Homo sapiens: one gene and its partners. The protein of the gene in region 2 interacts with the protein of the main gene of each other region in a pairwise test. Each region holds a gene or a part of one and is shown on either strand. Other genes may lie near its edges.

Region 1 (4,905 bases), on a different chromosome or scaffold from region 2:
TCCACCCCTTCCTGATCCAGCTCCTAGCCTCCTCCACCTACCATTTTGATTCTCCCCTTTTCCCTTTGGTCGTTACCCTTCAAACCCTGTGCCCCTCTGGTTCCTTGGCCACCTGAGATCCTCAGATCCCTGATATTGGAAGGCTGACCTCACTTGACTATGAACTTTAACCTCTGACCTCTACCCTGCAGGAACTTTTTCTCAATTTGATCCCCTCTCAGTGCCTGGGAGGCCTGTGGGGTCACAGAGACCGGCCAGGACATTCTCACCTCTGCCCATCTGTCCGAGCTACTGTCACACAGTTTAACAAGGTGGCAGGGGCAGTGGTTAGTTCTGTCCTGGGGGCTACTTCCACTGGAGAGGGACCTGGGGAGGTGACCATACGGCCACTCCGTCCCCCACAGAGGGCCCGGCTCCTGGAGAAGTGGATCCGCGTGGCAGAGGTGAGAGAGAAGATTGCCCTACGGTTTGTGGCCATGGAATGGAGAGGCCTCCCATAGCCTTAGCTCTCTTCTTTGACCCCCACAGGAGTGCCGGCTGCTCCGAAACTTCTCTTCAGTTTATGCCGTGGTGTCAGCCCTGCAGTCCAGCCCCATCCACAGGCTTCGGGCAGCCTGGGGGGAAGCAACCAGGTGCGGAGGCTGAGGCATTGGACTGGGGTGGGGGTTCCTCAGAAGGCGGGGAAGAGGGGGTGACAGAGCCAGGCCTGTCCTCAGGGCCACTTTTCTCCCTTCCCCAGGGACAGCCTCAGAGTCTTTTCCAGCCTCTGCCAGATTTTCTCCGAGGAGGATAATTATTCCCAGAGTCGGGAGCTGCTCGTGCAGGTGAGAGCCTGGTTTGTGGCATTCCCACCTCTCCTTGTTCCCTACTGCTCCCCCATGTCTCTTTTATTTTGTCACCACCAGGAGGTGAAGCTGCAGTCTCCTCTGGAGCCACACTCCAAGAAGGCCCCGAGGTCTGGCTCCCGGGGTGGGGTGAGTGACTAGCGGGGTGGTGGGCGTGGGGGTGGTGATTATGAAGGGGTGAGGAGTATGTTTTGGGGGAGCAGCCTGAAGGATGGGTAAGGGAGGCACAGAGGGGTGAGGAGAATGAAATCTGTTCTCTGAGGCAATGAGGAGGGCAAGTGCGGAGGGATGGAGGGCCCTCACGTCAATGGCAGGCACTTCTGACCCTGACCCCTGACTTCAGGGTGTGGTCCCATACCTTGGCACCTTCCTGAAGGACCTTGTGATGCTGGATGCAGCCTCCAAGGATGAGTTGGAGGTCAGTGGTGTGTGTGTGTGTCATTGCAATGATGTAACAAGTGGGCTGCAGGGTCGGACAGACCCCCCCGCCCCTTGCAAGGGGCTGTAAGGCACAAATAGCTGAGTGTGGGACAGAGCCAGATCTGTTTCTGTGCCAAGTCGCCTCAGTGATCTGTAAATGGGAAACTAGAAATAGCATCTACATTGATCTGTTATAAGGGTTAAATGAATTTGTATTTGTCAAGTGCTTAGAACGTGCCTGAAACGTAAGCACATCTAGGTTTTGTGATGGGCTCCTGCTCTATTGCTAGAGTTTGTTAAATAAACAAATACTGAGACCTTGGACAAGTTCCTTATCCTCTCTGGATAAGGAATCCTGTCGAATTGGATACTATCCAGTCCTCTCATCTGCAAAGCAGACTCGTTGTCTACCTGAGAAATTCAATTTAAAGGGTCAAGTGGAGTGCTTAGGCCATGATAGATTGAGGAGGAAGGCAGGGAGGGATCGAAGAGTCAGAGAGGCTGGAGGGAAGTGGTTGTGAGTTGGATGTGGCTGTGTGTGTTTAAGAGAGGGGATATTCTCTCTCTGTGGCCGGAAGGTAGGGTTGGAACTTTCACCCCATCCCCATTTTCCTCGCAGAATGGATACATCAATTTTGACAAGCGGAGGAAGGTGAGCGGAGTGTCTGGGCTGGATGCTGGACTTCCCTATCCATGTTCCAGGAAGGGGAGGGGGAAAAGTCAGGGGTCCCTGAGTTTTGGCTCCTGCAGTTTGAGGGCTCCTTCCCAGGAGTTTGCAGTCCTTTCTGAGTTGCGACGGCTCCAGAATGAATGTCGTGGCTATAACCTCCAACCTGACCATGATATCCAGAGGTGGCTACAGGGGCTCCGGCCACTGACAGAGGCTCAGAGGTGACTGGCGGGTGAGGTTGGGACTCCAGGGTTCTGGCCAGGTGTGGGGGATTGGTGTCATGTCCTGAGCTCTGCCTATTGCCCCCCTAACCCAGCCATCGTGTATCCTGTGAGGTGGAGCCACCTGGTTCCAGTGACCCTCCTGCCCCACGGGTGCTTCGGCCAACATTGGTCATCTCGCAGTGGACAGAGTGAGAGATTCACTGGCTGGGGGGTGGTTTCTTGGGACTTCCACTTTTCTCTGATCCTCCCAATCTCCTGCCACTGCAGGGTTTTGGGCTCTGTTGGGGTCCCTACCCCGCTTGTGTCCTGTGACCGGCCCAGTACTGGGGGAGATGAGGCGCCTACAACTCCTGCTCCTCTGCTGACTCGGCTGGCCCAGGTGAGCTCTGCTCCTGACTCTGACCTTGACGCTGACCCTCACTCTGTAAATGTTTCTTCCTTAAACCTCCCTGCCTTCATGCCAGTCCCATGTTGTTTGTTCCTAGCACATGAAGTGGCCATCTGTCTCGTCACTAGACTCTGCCTTGGAAAGCAGTCCATCCCTGCACAGTCCAGCTGACCCCAGCCACCTCTCCCCACCAGCCTCCTCCCCTAGGCCTTCTCGAGGTCACCGCCGCTCAGCCTCCTGTGGCTCCCCGCTGAGTGGGGGTGCAGAAGAGGCCTCCGGGGGGACTGGATATGGGGGAGAGGGATCTGGGCCAGGGGCCTCTGATTGCCGTATCATCCGAGTCCAGATGGAGTTGGGGGAAGATGGCAGTGTCTATAAGAGCATTTTGGTGAGGGAGCCTTGGGATGGAGTTGGGGTGAAGGATGGTGTCTTGTTGGACTATAAATGTTGTCTGAGGTTTGGGCAGCCAAATGGAATTGAATGTAGTTTTAATTTTGACCTTTGGTTTTGGCAGTTATGTTTTATTTTTAATTTTATCTTCTAAACTCTAGTCTTCAATAGAAGCTGAAATTTGTTTTATTTTGATGGCTATTTTGCATTAGTTGCTACACCTTAAACTTTTGGTCGCCGTGTTAAAATTTCAGAATCAACAGCAGTTTCCCCACAGGGAAGCAGCTCTGTTTCACTGGGCACCATGTGGGCTGGCTTATGGGGTATAGGAAGCCACCATATTGGGTTTTCCTGTTCATTTTAAAGCCTTGGACACAAGTAACATTTTGTGGTTGGGTTCAGTGGCTGAGGGTAGAAGGATGGGAAATCATGGCTGATTGATTGCTCTTTTGGTCTCCTGTTCTGCCAGGTGACAAGCCAGGACAAGGCTCCAAGTGTCATCAGTCGTGTCCTTAAGAAAAACAATCGTGACTCTGCAGTGGCTTCAGAGTATGAGCTGGTACAGCTGCTACCAGGGGAGCGAGGTCAGAGGCCATGAGGGAAAGGCAGACTCGGGAGGAGAGTGGAGTACTTCCACATCTGGGCGGCTGTGGGGGGAACAACTGTGTGTGTGCTTTACATCCATCCCCTGAACCTTCAGAGCTGACTATCCCAGCCTCGGCTAATGTATTCTACGCCATGGATGGAGCTTCACACGATTTCCTCCTGCGGCAGCGGCGAAGGTCCTCTACTGCTACACCTGGCGTCACCAGTGGCCCGTCTGCCTCAGGAACTCCTCCGAGTGAGGGAGGAGGGGGCTCCTTTCCCAGGATCAAGGCCACAGGGAGGAAGATTGCACGGGCACTGTTCTGAGGAGGAAGCCCCGTTGGCTTACAGAAGTCATGGTGTTCATACCAGATGTGGGTAGCCATCCTGAATGGTGGCAATTATATCACATTGAGACAGAAATTCAGAAAGGGAGCCAGCCACCCTGGGGCAGTGAAGTGCCACTGGTTTACCAGACAGCTGAGAAATCCAGCCCTGTGGGAACTGGTGTCTTATAACCAAGTTGGATACCTGTGTATAGCTTCCCACCTTCCATGAGTGCAGCACACAGGTAGTGCTGGAAAAACGCATCAGTTTCTGATTCTTGGCCATATCCTAACATGCAAGGGCCAAGCAAAGGCTTCAAGGCTCTGAGCCCCAGGGCAGAGGGGAATGGCAAAATGTAGGTCCTCGCAGGAGCTCTTCTTCCCACTCTGGGGGTTTCTATCACTGTGACAACACTAAGATAATAAACCAAAACACTACCTGAATTCTACTCCCCTGTCCTTGCAGTACATATGAACTGGCTGCTATGAGTGGGGGTGGGGAATTGGCTGAAGGTAGATGCCATGGAACAGGAAGGGGCACAATGTTTTCTGTCCCCATGAACAGAGCAAAAAGTGAGGTATTGGTGAAAAAAGTTTCCTCAGAACAGTTTCTCTCCAGTAACCTCTCTACCACTGGTCCCTTGCTGCAAATGTGTATAAAACAATTTTAGGACAAGGAAATGGCAGAACAACTTTATGGACAACATATAAACTTGGGAGGACTTATAATACCATAAAGCATTACATGCTGGGATTTTAAGTCAGTTTAAAGCTACATTCAAGCAAATTCTAGGAAGACAGAGGCTGAAAAGTACTAATAGAGATGCCAGGGCTGTTGGCAAGGAGGGTAACCACATTTCATCCTGGGGCCTCAGGTTAGAGAACTGTGTATTCTTTTTCAATTAAACCGACATTCCTAGCAATATGGTATGTTGCAAATGCCCTTCCAAAAGAATCATGCCAACCAAGATGAGGGAGAGTTAAGGGTTGTATATACAGGCAAGAAGTAGGTTTGAAGACATTTAGGATTTCACTTTCAAGAAAGAACACTGTGCCA
Region 2 (7,116 bases):
GAGGGGTTAAATTCTAATGACAAGATACAGTCATAGCAAATAAATAAGAATGTATCAGATAATGAAAATATTTACAAGAGCTAATAAAAAACCCACAAATGTCTGTGTGTAAATGAATACATGCTAACAATGATATCAAAAGATAGGCCGGGCCTGGTGGCTCACACCTGTGATCCCAACACTTTGGGAGACCAAGGCAGTAGGATTATTTGAGCCCAGGAGTTCAAGACCAGCCTGGGCAACATAGTAAGGCCTTGTCTGCGTACATATACACATACTTATCATCTGCCTGCCTACGGTTTATCAAGGTATATTAAAGTGAGATTTATGGGGCTGACGATAGGAGTGGGAATGTAAAGTTGTTGAATTGTACTATTTAAAAAATCAAAAGTTTGGGAAGAAGTCTCATAAAGTTTAAGATTTGACTTTCTGTTGAGTAGTGTAAATCACTTTATTGACTTAGTTCATTTTAGAAAAAGAAAGGATTTAATGATACTTTCAGTGCTTACCAAAATATTGACCTTTAAGTTATTTCCACAGTTCTAGCATGAAAATTTATATTCAGAGTTACATAGAAAAAAGACTATTATAAATTTGGTAAAATATATGTGTAATAGTTTTTGCAGGTATTGTGTTTTAAGGAAGAAAAGCTGTTTTCAAGCTGTAAACAGCCTAGAGGTAATAACTCAGCCCTCTCTGTTTGCAAATGAGGAAACCAAGAAATTGTCTAAAATTAAAATTAGTGTAGTTTTTACCATTGGAGGAATCTGGGCAAAGGGTATACAGAACTCTTCTTGTACTATTTTGGCAGCTTCACATGAATTTATAATTATTTCAAAATAAGTTTTGAAACGTAATAATTAAAAAATTGGTGTGTTTTTATCTTTTCTAGTTTGTGGAGGACTATGAGCCTACCAAAGCAGACAGCTATCGGAAGAAGGTAGTGCTAGATGGGGAGGAAGTCCAGATCGATATCTTAGATACAGCTGGGCAGGAGGACTACGCTGCAATTAGAGACAACTACTTCCGAAGTGGGGAGGGGTTCCTCTGTGTTTTCTCTATTACAGAAATGGAATCCTTTGCAGCTACAGCTGACTTCAGGTATGTCCTAGAGTAATGTTGTTGCTTGTGACATACTATACAACAATTTCTTCCCCAGAAACAAGTAGACAACTAGAGGTTCTAACTTGTTAGTCTTTTACTCTGTCTCTAATTGTGTTTATTCCCTTTTTGATATCAGTATATGACTCTCTCTACTGTGTTATGTACACACAGTTAGGATACTTTGCATAGTCTTACAGCTCTCCCGGTGTCACCTGTATTGGAGTTTGATTTTGTGACAGCTTCAGTTACCCAGAGTCTCTATGAGTTACTGAAGTATTTCTCTTTAGTGTAAACTACTACTGCCATAACAGTTCATACTTAGAGCACATAATGGAGCTTACTCAGGTTTTACATCTTTCTCTGTTAGTCATGGTTTCTTAGCACCTATGTAATGCTCAGTAGGCACGTTGCCATCCTCCTCAAAATATAGATGCCCTGATAGCACAGACTGAATTTTTTGTTTCTTTTTCTTATTACATGGGAACCTTCAGAATGAATGAATTTTTAATAGAAATAATATCTCTGTAGATGGGCACATTAGATTGTTATATAATATTTTTTATTATTTATTGTTTAATTAAAATCTGGAATCCATTTGGTTTTAGAGGAGGTGGTTTTGGTGAAGGGGAAAGAGGTGCTCCTCTATATTTAAGAGGTATTTGGCATAGAGTTCTTGCGTGGTCTTGCAAATACTACATGCATAAATCAAGTGTTCTTTAATTAAATGATACATATTTTTATTTCTGTGTGAAGTGTCTTACTTGATTATGGAGGACAGAAAAGAAGCATGCAATGTATCCTCTATTTTCAAGATTCACACAGCCTAGATGAATATATAAGGCATTTAACCAAGAGCAAGTTAGTGACAAAGTAGGAACATGGGCAGTGGTTAGTGCAGAGGATCCGGGAGGGGAAAGAAGCTGGGAAACCTTCATGAAATAGATGAGCTTGAAGAAAAGAAGGATTTTCACACATAAGGAAAGAGGGCATTTCAGGTGGGTGAGCAAAAAACTAAACCAAGGCTTTTACAGAGCATTCCTTTTTATGCACACTTGAAAATCTCAAGAACTTATTCTAAGAGAGCATTCTTTGCAAAAAGCAGGTAATTGAGAAACTCTGAAGTATAGATTTATTCATAAAGTTTGTTGGTTTCTATGAGGAAGAAATTTCATATATGATGACATGCAAGGGATGGCAGACTCTGGTAGCTTGTAATTGTGGGAGACATGTTGAAAGTTATATAAATGCCAATGCTTATTCATTCAGCAGATATTTGAGTGCTTATAATGTAGCAAGTCTTGTTCTAAGTAATGGAATAAATGTTATCACCATAGTCACCAAAGTCAAAGTGATATTTCAAGAGAATAAGGTATTTTCATGCAAGAATCTTGGGCTATTACTATTATAGAAAATAAGGATGATTCATTACTCTTAGGGCGTACCTCCAATGCCTCTGCCATAAATAAAAATGACCCTAGTGACTCACCAACAATATTGTTGGTGAAAGGCTTTTTTGAAAAGGTCTGAATGGTTACAGTGGGCACTCCACGTGGTCTAAACTGCAAGAGTAGCAAAAATAAATAAAACAGTAGCATAAATATCAGCTCCTCCCTTTAGCCTTCCTGGTCATCTCTGTGATCCACAAAATCCATTGCTTCCTCGTCTATATATGCAATGTCCTTGCTGCAGCTCCAGTATCACACTTAACACCTATTCCTTTCCTGTCTCAGTATCCCCAGTACCTATATATGCCATAGTTCATAGCATATAATCTATAGTAAGTACATGTTTAGTAAACATTTGTCTTGATTCAAAAACCTTTACCTTTTGGTTTTTACTTTCCTATGTCAAAAATGAAGTTGGACCAGATTGTACTTCCCTATTCTGAAATTCTGTAATAGCCTCTAAAACTGTATTTAAAGGGAGTATTATATTAAGCAAAATGTATATGAAGTTTATACCGTAGAATTACTTTTCTCTGACATCCAGCAAAGTTGCTAGTAAAACCAATCTATTAACTCTAAAAAAATAACATCTTCTCACCTCGGAACCCAGTAGGTCCAGGTTTTCTACAGCCGTGTTTCTGCCAGCATCAATCACACTATGCTTTTTCAGTATTGGTTTCCCTGCAGCACCTGACTCAGAGTAGCTTAGTAGGTATTTATTAAGAAATAAATTAATGACTATATATACACACATATGACCAGAGGTGCTAGAGTTACAAACACCTGAGTCAGTCTCACCTTCCAAGTGGTGAGACTGAGTGGCAGGTTAGTTGTTGTTAACAGCTTCATTCAGTGGCGATCATTAGAAAGTCAGGAAACAACAGATGCTGGAGAGGATGTGGAGAAATAGGAATGCTTTTACACTGTTGGTGAGAGTGTAAATTAGTTTAACCATTGTGGAAGACAGTGTGGCGATTCCTCAAGGATCTAGAATAGAAATACCATTTGACCCAGCGATCCCATTACTGGGTATGTACCCAAAGGATTATAAATCATGCTGCTATGAAGACACATGCACATGTATGTTTACTGCGGCACTACTCACAATAGTAAAGACTTGGAATCAACTCAAATGTCCATCAATGATAGACTGAATTAAGAAAATATGGCACATATACACCATGGAATACTATGCAGCCATAAAAAAGGATGAGTTCATGTCCTTCGCAGGGACATGGATGAAGCTGGAAACCATCATTCTGAGCAAACTGTCACAAGGACAGAAAACCAGACACTGCATATTTTCACTCATAGGTGGGAATTGAACAATGAGAACACTTGGACACAGGGCAGGGAACATCACACACTGGGGCCTATCGTGGGGTGGGGGACTGGGGGAGGGATAGCATTAGGAGAAATACCTAATGTAAATGACGAGTTGATGGGTGCAGCAAACCAACATGGCACATGTATACCTCGGTAACAAACCTGCACGTTGTGCACATGTACCCTACAACTTAAAGTATAATTAAAAAAAGAAAAAAGAACAGCATTCAGGCCGTCATTCACAAAGGAAACTGGTTAAGAAAGTCACAGCACGCCCTAGAAAAAGATTGTGATTGGCCAAAATGCCCTTCACAAGTACTGCATATATTTAATAGTAATCATGGTGAAAGTTGACATGGTTTTTGCAAGAAATCATGTGAGTGGTAGGAAGCATCATAGCACTGTGTAGTGCTGTACGTCTTAGCCTGCATCACCCAGATACCGTGCTTGTTTGACTTCTAAAAGGATGTTTAAGACAAATACAAATCAGTGAAGAATGGAGTTTACTTTCTCTGTGGCCCATAGTCTGTGCGGCCTATAGTCTATTCACATTAGAAAAACTGAGAGTTCAGGTCCAAAGAACTTCCTATGAGTGTTGAATGTGTTAGAATGTTTGCTACATCGTGAGTAATCAAGTGAATGAAGTAATAATAATAGTAACACTACCTCATACTCATGCAGCACTTACCAGGACCAGACTGTTCTAAGCATTCACATATATAAATTAGTTTCTCAAACAACACTGTGAGATAGATACTACTGGATTTCATAGATTATAAGATGTACATTTTAACATCTCTGAGGGCTATGTCTTATGATATGGCACCATACAGTTATAATTGCCAGCAGTTTTTCTTAGAGTCCATAAAATAAGATTGAGAACTAGTGATGTCTTAAATTTGACTTTTTTTAAAAAAGTGACATCCAAATTTATAAATGAAGAAACAGAAATGCAGGGAGGTTAAGTGGCTTGCCCCAGGTTGTGCAGTCAGGAATAGCATAGAGTTAAAATGCAGGAGGTCTGCCTTTGTATTCTCTTGGTATCTACTGTACAAGTTCATTGTGTGCTCTGGAGTTGGATTTCTCAGTCCTGGTTCTACTTAAGTGTGTCTCTGAGCAAGTTAACATAATTTCTGTGTGCATCAGTTTCCTCATCTGTAGGACAAGAATAATAATGATACTAACTTCATAGGTTTAGGTAAGGATTAAATGAGAAAATGTATGTAAGTCCTGAAAGCAGTGTTTGGCACATTGTGAGCGCTGAGTACAATGTTAGTGGTAGTAGTGTGGTGGTGGTATTTAGGAAACATTGTCTAAGAAGCACAGAATAGAATAATCTGAAAATAAGGCAAGAAGATTTTTCCCAGTTTTTCAAGCATCACTATAAAATGCCTGCAGCCAGGTACAGTGGCTCACAGCAGTAATCCCAGCAATTTGGGAGGCTGAAGCAGGCAGATCACTTGAGTTCAGGAGTTCAAGACCAGTCTGGACAACATGGTGAAACCCCATCTCTACAAAAAAAAGAAAAAAAGAAAAAAAAATTAGCTGGGTGTGGTGGCGCGTGCCTATAGTATAGGTGTGCTACTCGGGAAGTTGAGGTAAGAGAATTGCTTGAGCCCAGGAGGTTGAGGCTGCAGTGAGCCGTGATCATGCCACTGCACTACAGCCTGGGTGACAGAGTAAGACCCTGTCTCAAAAAAAAGAAAAAAAAAAAAAGTCTGCAAAACCAAGTGTACTTTGCTGATTTGCCATTCTAATATCCCTTTAATTTTCTCATTTTCTCTTATTCTAAAATATAGTCGTCCCTCAGTATCAGGGCAGGGCAGGGATTGGTTCCAGGACTCCTTATGGATACCGACATTCATGGATAGTCAAGTCTCTTCTATAAAATGGTGTGGTATTTGCAGATAGCCTATGCACATCCTCCCATGTACCTTAAGTCATCTCTAGATTACTTTTAATAGCTAATACAGTGTAATTGCTATGTAAATAGTTGTTATTCTGCATTTTAAATTTTGTTTTACTTTTTATTGTGGCATTTTTTTGGTTTTTGGTTTTTTTTTTTGAGACAGGATCTTACTCTGTCATCCAGGCTAGAGTACAGTGATGTAATCATGGCTCACTGCAGCCTTGAACTCCTGGGCTCAAGCGATCTTCCTGAGTAGCTAGGACTACAGGTGCACACTACTACACCCAGCCAAATTTTTTTTCTATTTTTTATAGATATGGGGGTCTCACTGTGTTGCCTGGGCTGGTATTGAACTCCTAGCCTCAAGCAATCCTCCTGCCTCAGCCTCCCAAAGTGCTGGGTTTACAGGTATGAGCCACTGCACCTGGCTGTTTTTGGGGTTTTAAAAGATATTTTTTATTTGCAGTTAGTTGAGTCTGTGGATACAGAGGGCTGACTTTACTTACGTTCCTATAGCTTCAACAGCTCTTAATAATTTCAAAGGAGAGGCATTTTTAAGGTAGCAAATTATTGAACCTAAGTCTTACAGATTTCCTTTTGTTTTTTGATTTTACAAAAAAACATTTCTTCCAGTAGATTAATAATGAGCTAACATTTTTTGAATATTTACTCTGTCGATGCAGTTATAAGCACTTCACATTTAACCCTCATAGCAACTTTATAAGGAAGGTATAATTGTTGGCTCCATTTTATAGATGAGGAAACTGAGGTAAGAAGTACTTTGCACTTTGCTCAGACTTACATGACTAGGAAGAGCAGAACCATGGTACTTTAAAATTGATGACACTTTCACAGTGGATAACTTACCTCTCAATGCAAAATCTATGCTCAAGGTCTGACTTCCAGTAATTTCTGGCACATTTGGGTTTTGAAAAACAATTGGTGGGACCCTTGATATGATGCAATAAGAATAGCACTTTCTAAATCTTCCTCCCAAGAACCAATAACCCTACTTTAATCATGAGGAAAACATCTGACAAATCCCAATTGAGAGACATTGTACAAACTGCCAGCCAGCAGTCCTCAAAACTATTAAGGTCATCAAAAACAAGGAAAGTCTGAGAATTACCATGGCCAACTCAAGGCTAAAGAGACATGACGAAACTAAATGTCATGTGGCAACCTGGATGGGATCCTGGAACAGAAAAAGGATGTCAGGCAAAAAGCAAGCACATTTGAATAAAGTTTGGACCTTAGTTGCTAATACTGTATCGATATTGGTTCATTAATTGTGATTTGTGTACCACAGTAGTAGATGTTAACAATAGGGAA
Region 3 (7,675 bases), on a different chromosome or scaffold from region 2:
CTTGAAAATGTCTGTCCAAAAGGACTGTCAGTTTGGGTGAGAGGATCCCTGGAAATCAGGGGACTAAGGACTAGGTCATAGGTGGCCATCCAGAAGATACATTGCTGAGCCAAGAGACTGTAGGTGAGGGTTCCAGTGATGGACTCCATGAGAGAAAGAGTCAGCTTCAGACCTCAGCCACTCCCAAAAGTCACTGACTGCTAAAACTGTGTCAGTCCAGAAAGATCCTTTCTGTTCTTGTCTTCTTCAACTGTGGAGGGGCACAAAACAAAAAGCCAATAAGCCAGGGAGAAGGGAGAACAAGGTAGAGGAAATGGCAGAGAATTTTTGATATTGCACTGGACAGGATTTTTTTCTAATACTAGGGGCAAAAGGCCACTTTTTTTTATTACTAGAAAATTACTGGAGGACTTTTTTTTTTTTTTTTTCTGACAGAGAGGCTCTTGCTCTGTCACCAAGCTGGAGTACAGTGGCACGATTATAGCTCACTCACTGCAGTCTCAAACTCCTGGGCTCAAGGGATCCTCCTGCCTCAGCCTCTGGAGTAGCTGTACTACAGGCATGTGCCATCGTATCCTGGTATTATTTTTTAAAATTTTTTGTAGAGGCAGAATTTCACTTTGTTAACCAGGCTGGTCTCGAACTCCTGGGCTCAACTGATCCTCCCACCTTGGCTTTGAAAAGTGTTGAATTATAGGCATGAGCCAACACACCTGGCCTGGTGGACTTTTTAATTATGTGACAGTGAGCGGAAAAGCAAAAATGCTTTGCCTAAGATTTGTTTTAAAATATATTTTTCTTTTCTTTCTTTCTTTTTTTTTTGTTCTTGTTTTTGTTTTTTGAGAGACAGGGTCTCACTCCTATTGCCCAGGCTGGAGAGGGGTGGCACAGTCATGGCTCATGACAGTCTTAATTTCCTGGGCTCAAGTGATTCTCTCACCTCACCCTCCATAGTAGCTGGGACTACAGGCATGATCCACCATGCCCGGCTAATTGTTGCAATTTTTTGTAGAGACAGGGTTTCGCCATGTTGCCCAGGCTGGTCTTGAACTCTGGTCTCAAGCAGCCGCAGCTTTCCAAAGTGTTGGGATTACAGGCATGAGCTACTGCGCCCTGCCCAGAAACATATTTTATTTTACTTTGAGACAGAGTTTTGCTCTTGTTGCCCAGGCTGGAATGCAGTGGTGCCATCTCAGCTCACTGCAACCTCCGCCGCCCGGGTTCAAGCGATTCTCCTGCCTCAGCCTCCCGAGTAGCTGGGATTATAGGTACCTGCACCACACCCAGCTAATTTTTGTATTTTTGATAGAGATGGAGTTTCATCATGTTGGCCAGGCTGGTCTCGAACTCCTGATCTCAGGTGATCCGCCCAACTCGGCCTTCCAAAGTGCTGGGATTACAGACGTGAGCCACTGGGCCCGGCCCAAAGACATATTTTAAAGCCCCAGCTTAAATCAGAGTTTCTCAATAGTGGCATTAATGATGTCTGGGACTCTCTTGTAATATCAATGCAAAGGAATGTTACTAATTCTTTCTCCCACCAATCCTCTTCAGAAATATTGCCAACTATCCACTCAGGGGACAAAACCACCCCCAGTTGAGTGCCAACAAGTTTTTGAGTCCTTCAATGCTAGGCTCTGGGAATATTGTGAATAAGATAAATACTCACTGCTCCCATTGAGGAGTTCAGGAGAGACAGGCAAAAAATTAAGTATACCAAAAAATTTAAGATAATTACAAATTATAATACATTCTCTAAAGGAAGCAAGCAGGATGCTGAAACCGGAAATAATGGGGTAAAGAGTTCTGTATTAAACAGAGAATATCTAGGTAGGAGTTAGCCAGGTGAAGGAAGGATAGAGGTTGGGAGTATCTGTAAAATTGTCTCTAAGGAAACAGCATTTACAAAGCTTTATTTAGTCTCAGGTACATAAGCACCAAAATGTATATTTTCTACGTTGCTATTTTTTACTTGCCATTACTCAGTTACAAAAATGAGAAGGTATTTGTTTTTGATAGGACCATTCAATTGTCTTCCTCCCTCCCTGTTTGTATCTCTCCTTCTTTTCTTCTTTTTCTTCCTACTCTTCATTTCTTCTTTTTTCTCCCTTTCATTAGAAGAGACTTCTTTTCTTCTTTTTCTTCCTACTCTTCATTTCTTCTTTTTTCTCCCTTTCATTAGAAGAGACTTCAGTACCTGGCCTGATGCACAACTCTAAGTCATACTATTTACATTATATTCTCCATGAACGGCACCTCTAGAATTCTGTTCCAGAATCAGTATGACTCAGCTGGGTGTCCACACACCCTCTAGAATTCTACTCCAGAATCAGTGACTCAGCTGGGTGTCCACACTTTGGAATGTATAATCTATTCTCTCAAGGGGAAGTTGATTGATTTATTTCCTAATGATAGTGTTCTTCCTTATAAGCCATTATAAGCCATCAGGAGATATTGTTTGAAGAAAAGTAAAAGATAAGCAATCTGGACTGTGGGATGAAAGGATAAACACCCAAGGGTGGGAGGCAGGAATTCACGGAAGTTAAAAGTGGGAGAGGTATTACATTATATTCTATCAGAGTGAGTTTGTTTTGTGAGAACTTGTCCACTGCAAGGACTTCACTTGGTGTCCACCTGAGAAGTACTTGCCTACTATTATCTACGCACTAGTCTCAAACTCCCGATCTCAGGTGATCTGCCCTGCTGGGCCTCCCAAAGTGCTGGGATTACAGGCATGAGCCACCGCACCTGGTGATCTTGAACAGCCTTGTCAGTTGTCTTCCTTGCATTGACACTGCCCTAGAACTCCTCCAGGACAGGTAAGCCCAGAGAGAACCTTGGTTACTAAGCAGGATGGTGGTGGGACTTGGAGGCTGAATTGAATTTGCTAGGACACTGTAAGAACAGAATACCCCTGATACATTTTCAATAGAAGAATTTCTGGGGAAGTGACTTTTGTCTATTTTTCTATTTGGTCGCCTGTTTTTTTAAAAATTGATTTCTGGAAATACATATGGAGTTGAGCCCCTTTTCAATTATATGTATTTCAAATAAATTCTATTTGCTGGCCTAACTTTTCTTCTCTCTCTGTCTCTCTTCTTTTTTTTTCTTCTGTAGATCTCCTCTGTGGACAGCTTTTTTTTTTTTTTTTTTTTTTTTTGAGACAGGGTCCTCCTCTGTTGCCCAGGCTGGAGTTCAGTGGCTCTATCTTGGCTCACTGCAACCTCTGCCTCCTGGGTTCAAGTAATTCTCCTGCCTCAGCCTCCTGAGTGGCTGGGATTACAGGCACGCGCCACCACACCTGGCTAATTTTTGTATTTTTCGTAGAGATGGGGGTTTCACCATGTTGGTCAGGCTGGTCTTGAACTCCTGACCTCAGGTAATCCACCCGCCTTGGCCTCCCAAAATGCTGGGATTACAGGTGTGAGGCTCTGTGCCCGGCTGGAGACAACTTTTCATCTCCTAACGGCATCTTTTTTTTTTTTTCCCAGAGAATATCTCACTTTGTCACCCAGGCTGAAGTGCAGTGGCACAATCATGGCTCACTGCAACCTCAAACTCCTGGTCTCAAGTGATCCTCCACTCTTAGCCTCTTGAGTAGCTGGGACTACAGGTGCCTGTCACCATGCCTGGCGAATTTTTGTATTTTTAGTAGAAATGGGGTTTCGCCATGTTGCCCAGGCTAGTCTCGAACTCAAGTGATTCACCCGCCTCGGCCTCCCAAAGTGCTGGGATTACAGGCATGAACCATGGCGCCTGCCTGTGAAACTTCTATTCTGTGAAATTTCTATTCTCCTCAGTGAACCGAGGATAGGCAATCATTTGTGGTGCAAATTGAGGCCTGAGTGTCAATCCCTACCTAGAATTTTGTATCATGGTTAATTTATTTCATTTTTACCATAAAAATAAGTAGAAGCTTTTATATTTTCTACCTATTCCAATGGAGACTGAGCATCTTGCATGATACTTTGGTACATGCTCCCATTTTGGAGACCAAAAAGTCAGATGTCATGAGACAGATTGAAACTGGCAATTTTAACAATTTTTTATTAATATAACCTTTTTTATTCATAGATTTGAACCTCAATCGAGTGCATTTTAACAGTTACATAATTAGAAGGCAGGACTCCTTCCATGCTCCAGGCATTAAGCAGATACTAAGGTTTCAATAAATATTTGATTTGATCCTCTTGATTTTAGCCTAAGGAGAAAATGGTGAGATAAATTTCTTCTTTGCATAGGTGGAAAAGGGAAACATAATTGCTTTCAGAGAATCTAGGTCCTAAGAAGTTGGGGGAAGAAAGATGAAAGGAGGAAATACAATGTTGAATTGGGATAAGTTAAGTCTAATATTTCTTTGCTCAAGTTTGGAAACCTGAGGCCCTTCAGTGGCCAGCCTTAATGCAGTTTTTGTAATGCATCGAGACAAGACCTTATAATGGTCGTAGTGTGTGACTGTGAAAGAGAAGGAGAAAACATGTGAAAAACGAAAAAAAAAAAGCTCACAGCCTCAAACTGCTGCACATACCCTGTACAGTTAGTTTGCAGTCAGAGTAGGGAGCCGGCCTGGGTCCCCGCACCTGGGCCTGGCTCCCGTGGCCCCGCCCCTGGGGCGGGCTCCCATCGAGGCTCCGCCCCCACCTCCCCTATCGCCGGAGACGCCTGCGGCGGCCCCGGAGACACCGGAAGGAGCCGCGGCTGCTGCGGGAAGTGGCCAGTTCAGGAGGCGGACCCCCCGAGGGCAGCGCTGCGGGGCCGTTTTCCGGCCCTCCTGACGCGACACTGCCCCTCTCCGAGAGCTGAGAAGGAAAAGAGGAGCTTGCGGAGGTGCGGCTGCAGGCCGTTGTTGGTCGAGCTGGCGGGTCCCGCGGGCCAGGCCGTGGAGGTGAGCGCGGCGCTGCTGGGAGGGGCGCGGGGCCCAAGGGCGTTTCGCTCGCGTCCGGGGTCCGGTCTCTGTTCTCGCTTCCGCGCGCTGGGGTTGCGGCCGCTGCAGCAGCCTCTTTTTCTTGGTCCTGGGTGGCGGCGGGTTCGCGGGCGGGAAGAAGGCCTTGGCCCCTCGGTGCTCTGCGTTGCAGAGATAATCTAGTGGTCGCCCTGTCAACGGTCGGTGGAGGATGGGAACCGGTCGTTGATTTGAGGAAGGGTCCTCAGGGGTTCTTCCCTGGAAGCGGGAGGTGCAGGTGAGCCCGAGAAGCGGGGGCTCTGCTCCCTTCCTCGGTCTCCCCACTCAGGCTTGCCAGTCCCTCTCAGTGGGTGACTGAAAGCCCTGCAGCGCGCCGGCTCCTGGGTTCTGGTTTCGCTTTTCGGCGCTGTTGAGGGGGCCGGCCCCGTTGTTTGTTGTTGTGAACGGAAAAACCGAGGTGTCATCGTCCCTGGAATTTTTCTTCGACCAATGTTTGATCTTGACTGAGAGGTTACCCCTTACCTTCTGTCCATCTGCAGCCTTTGTTTGGATGAAAGATCCATAGTGTGTGGTTTCCCAGACCTTTACTTATATTTCTCGTATACAAAACGCTCTTCATTTGAATATTTACAGGGTTTTACGTTGAGCTCTTGGACGATGAGATTTTCCTGGGTGTTTTGCACTCAAGTACCGTTGGAGTTTACATTCTCATAGAATCAGTATTAGGCCTGGAAAATTGAGCCAGAGGGTGAAATTCTGGCAGGAGCATAGACTTAAATTGAAGGTGAATTTTACCGTAACGATCTCTAGGCCTTTTGCTTAATAACTATGTGGATGTAGAGAATTTTTAAGTTTAATCAGATTATTTTTCCTTTAAGAAAAACGTGTTACAAAAAGTAACAAGGCCGTCCTAGTTCCGTTTTTCCTACTGTCTTATTTGGAAAGGTCTGACCAAGTCACATTATCGTCATAGGCTATTTGATTTGAGCATAATACAAATATTGTTAGTGAATTCATACTATTATAAATAAGAGAGAAAATAGGAATCTTAAAGACAATGCTAGTTTTATGAAAAAATAATAGAAATAGTTACACAATGCTAGGAGCTTTGTATTATTTCATTACTTTGGCAGGATTGAAAGAAAGGTCAGGGCTGGGCACGGTGGCTCACGCCTGTAATCCCAGCACTCTGGGAGGCCGACGATCACGAGGTCAGGAGATCGAGACCATCCTGGGTAATACGGTGAAACCCCGTCTGTACTAAAAATTACAAAAAATTAGCCGGGCATGGTGGCAGGTGCCTGTAGTCCCAGCTACTTGGGAGGCTGAGGCAGGAGAATGGCGTGAATCCGGGAGGCAGAGCTTGCAATGAGCCGAGATCATGCCACTGCACTCCAGCCTGGGCAGCAGAGCGAGACTCTGTCTCAAAAAAAAAAAAAAAAAAAAAAAGGACAGTACAAAAAATATTATTGGAATAAAATATTTGACCTGATATGTGCAAGAGGGATAGTCTACTTAAGATTGCTTCCTATTTATGATCTGGTTTATGGCCAGTTTCACTTTTTTTCTGTCTTTTCTGAACTTTTTATAACTTAACAGTAAGCAAGTCTTTTTATATAACTGCAGTTTAATGACATTAGATTGTAGTAAATAGGTGATTTTAAATATTTGAAATTCAGAATTGAGATGATAATTCTTACATTTATGTAGTAGTATTAGAATTTTCTGTGACCTTTCACTTACACAGTCTTACTTGATCCTCATGCCAGTCCTCTGAGCTCCGAATGCCAAGAAATAAAGTCTTTCCCCATGACAGAAACATTTCAAGATTGTGTAAGGATCAGAATTTCGTAAAGCCTGAAATAATGTTGCCAAAGCAGCTTTTGATACAGATTGGGAATTCAGATAGATTAAGATTGGAGCACTGTGAACTATAACATATGACAAGACTGTGGACTCTTCACAAGAAAATGAAGTACATAAAATGCTGAAAGATTTTTGGTGAGAAATGTGAAATGTAACCATTTCTAAAAAGGAAGGGAATAAGTAACAGCTCTATTTAGTGTAGTTTTTAAACTTTAAAAGTGTACATGTGTCTGCAGGAACATTTTGATAAGTGGGAAAACTCCAAAGAGTGTGAGATGAGTACAGTTGCTTTTAACTATCTATAAAAAGGCACATGAATTATGTGCTATATTGTATACTGAGAACTAGTCTTTAAGAAACAATATGTATATCAAAATAAATCATGCTGTCAAATGTTCAGAAGGTTAAGTTAGGTCAATATTTTGAGTCTACCAGGACAAGGCCCTTTGGAAAACAAAAAGAATGAAACGTGGTTTCTGCCTTCAAAGAACTTGTAGTCAAGTGAGGCAATTTTTTACACAACAGTAAATGCCTTATGAGTTTTTATAAAAGTTCCTTAGGAATTTAGGTGAGGTAGACATTACTTGTGATTGGGGCTTGGTGAAGGTAGTATTTGAGATGAGTGAGCTTTGAAAGGTAAATATTGGAGGATATTTGTAATGTGAACAGATTAATGAGCTCCTTGAAGGGTACAACTTACATTTGAGAAAACATCGGTAGAACAATGTGGCTGATATTCATAGTTTATGTAAGTTAATAATAGATAAAGAAGACAAATTATGAAAGACTTCACTGAAGGTGTTTGATCAGAAGAGGTATGTGATCCACATGAAAGGAAAATGAGCTGTAACTGTTAGAAGATTGAGACTGGAAGACTGCTGGGGTGGCTTTATGTTAAGCTAGATT

Evidence for each region.
Region 1: the proteins of RALA (region 2) and RGL2 interact in a two-hybrid assay, tested with the Homo sapiens proteins (one study listed by BioGRID).
Region 3: the proteins of RALA (region 2) and USP33 interact in a two-hybrid assay, tested with the Homo sapiens proteins (one study listed by BioGRID).

Annotation. Positions count from the first base shown.
Region 1 is NC_000006.12:33,291,046-33,295,950, reverse strand, and holds the end of RGL2 (ral guanine nucleotide dissociation stimulator-like 2), read left to right. Parts: intron 1-191; coding exon 192-443; intron 444-528; coding exon 529-632; intron 633-739; coding exon 740-824; intron 825-905; coding exon 906-974; intron 975-1,188; coding exon 1,189-1,263; intron 1,264-1,884; coding exon 1,885-1,917; intron 1,918-2,015; coding exon of another isoform or gene 2,016-2,034; coding exon 2,035-2,156; intron 2,157-2,251; coding exon 2,252-2,347; intron 2,348-2,426; coding exon 2,427-2,538; intron 2,539-2,623; coding exon of another isoform or gene 2,624-2,644; coding exon 2,645-2,935; intron 2,936-3,406; coding exon 3,407-3,521; intron 3,522-3,637; coding exon 3,638-3,849; 3' UTR 3,850-4,297; downstream 4,298-4,905. UniProt on the Homo sapiens protein: Probable guanine nucleotide exchange factor. Putative effector of Ras and/or Rap. Associates with the GTP-bound form of Rap 1A and H-Ras in vitro.
Region 2 is NC_000007.14:39,689,490-39,696,605, forward strand, and holds part of RALA (ras-related protein Ral-A precursor), read left to right. Parts: intron 1-892; coding exon 893-1,101; intron 1,102-7,116. UniProt on the Homo sapiens protein: Multifunctional GTPase involved in a variety of cellular processes including gene expression, cell migration, cell proliferation, oncogenic transformation and membrane trafficking.
Region 3 is NC_000001.11:77,756,853-77,764,527, reverse strand, and holds the start of USP33 (ubiquitin carboxyl-terminal hydrolase 33), read left to right. Parts: upstream 1-4,675; 5' UTR 4,676-4,885; intron 4,886-7,675. UniProt on the Homo sapiens protein: Deubiquitinating enzyme involved in various processes such as centrosome duplication, cellular migration and beta-2 adrenergic receptor/ADRB2 recycling.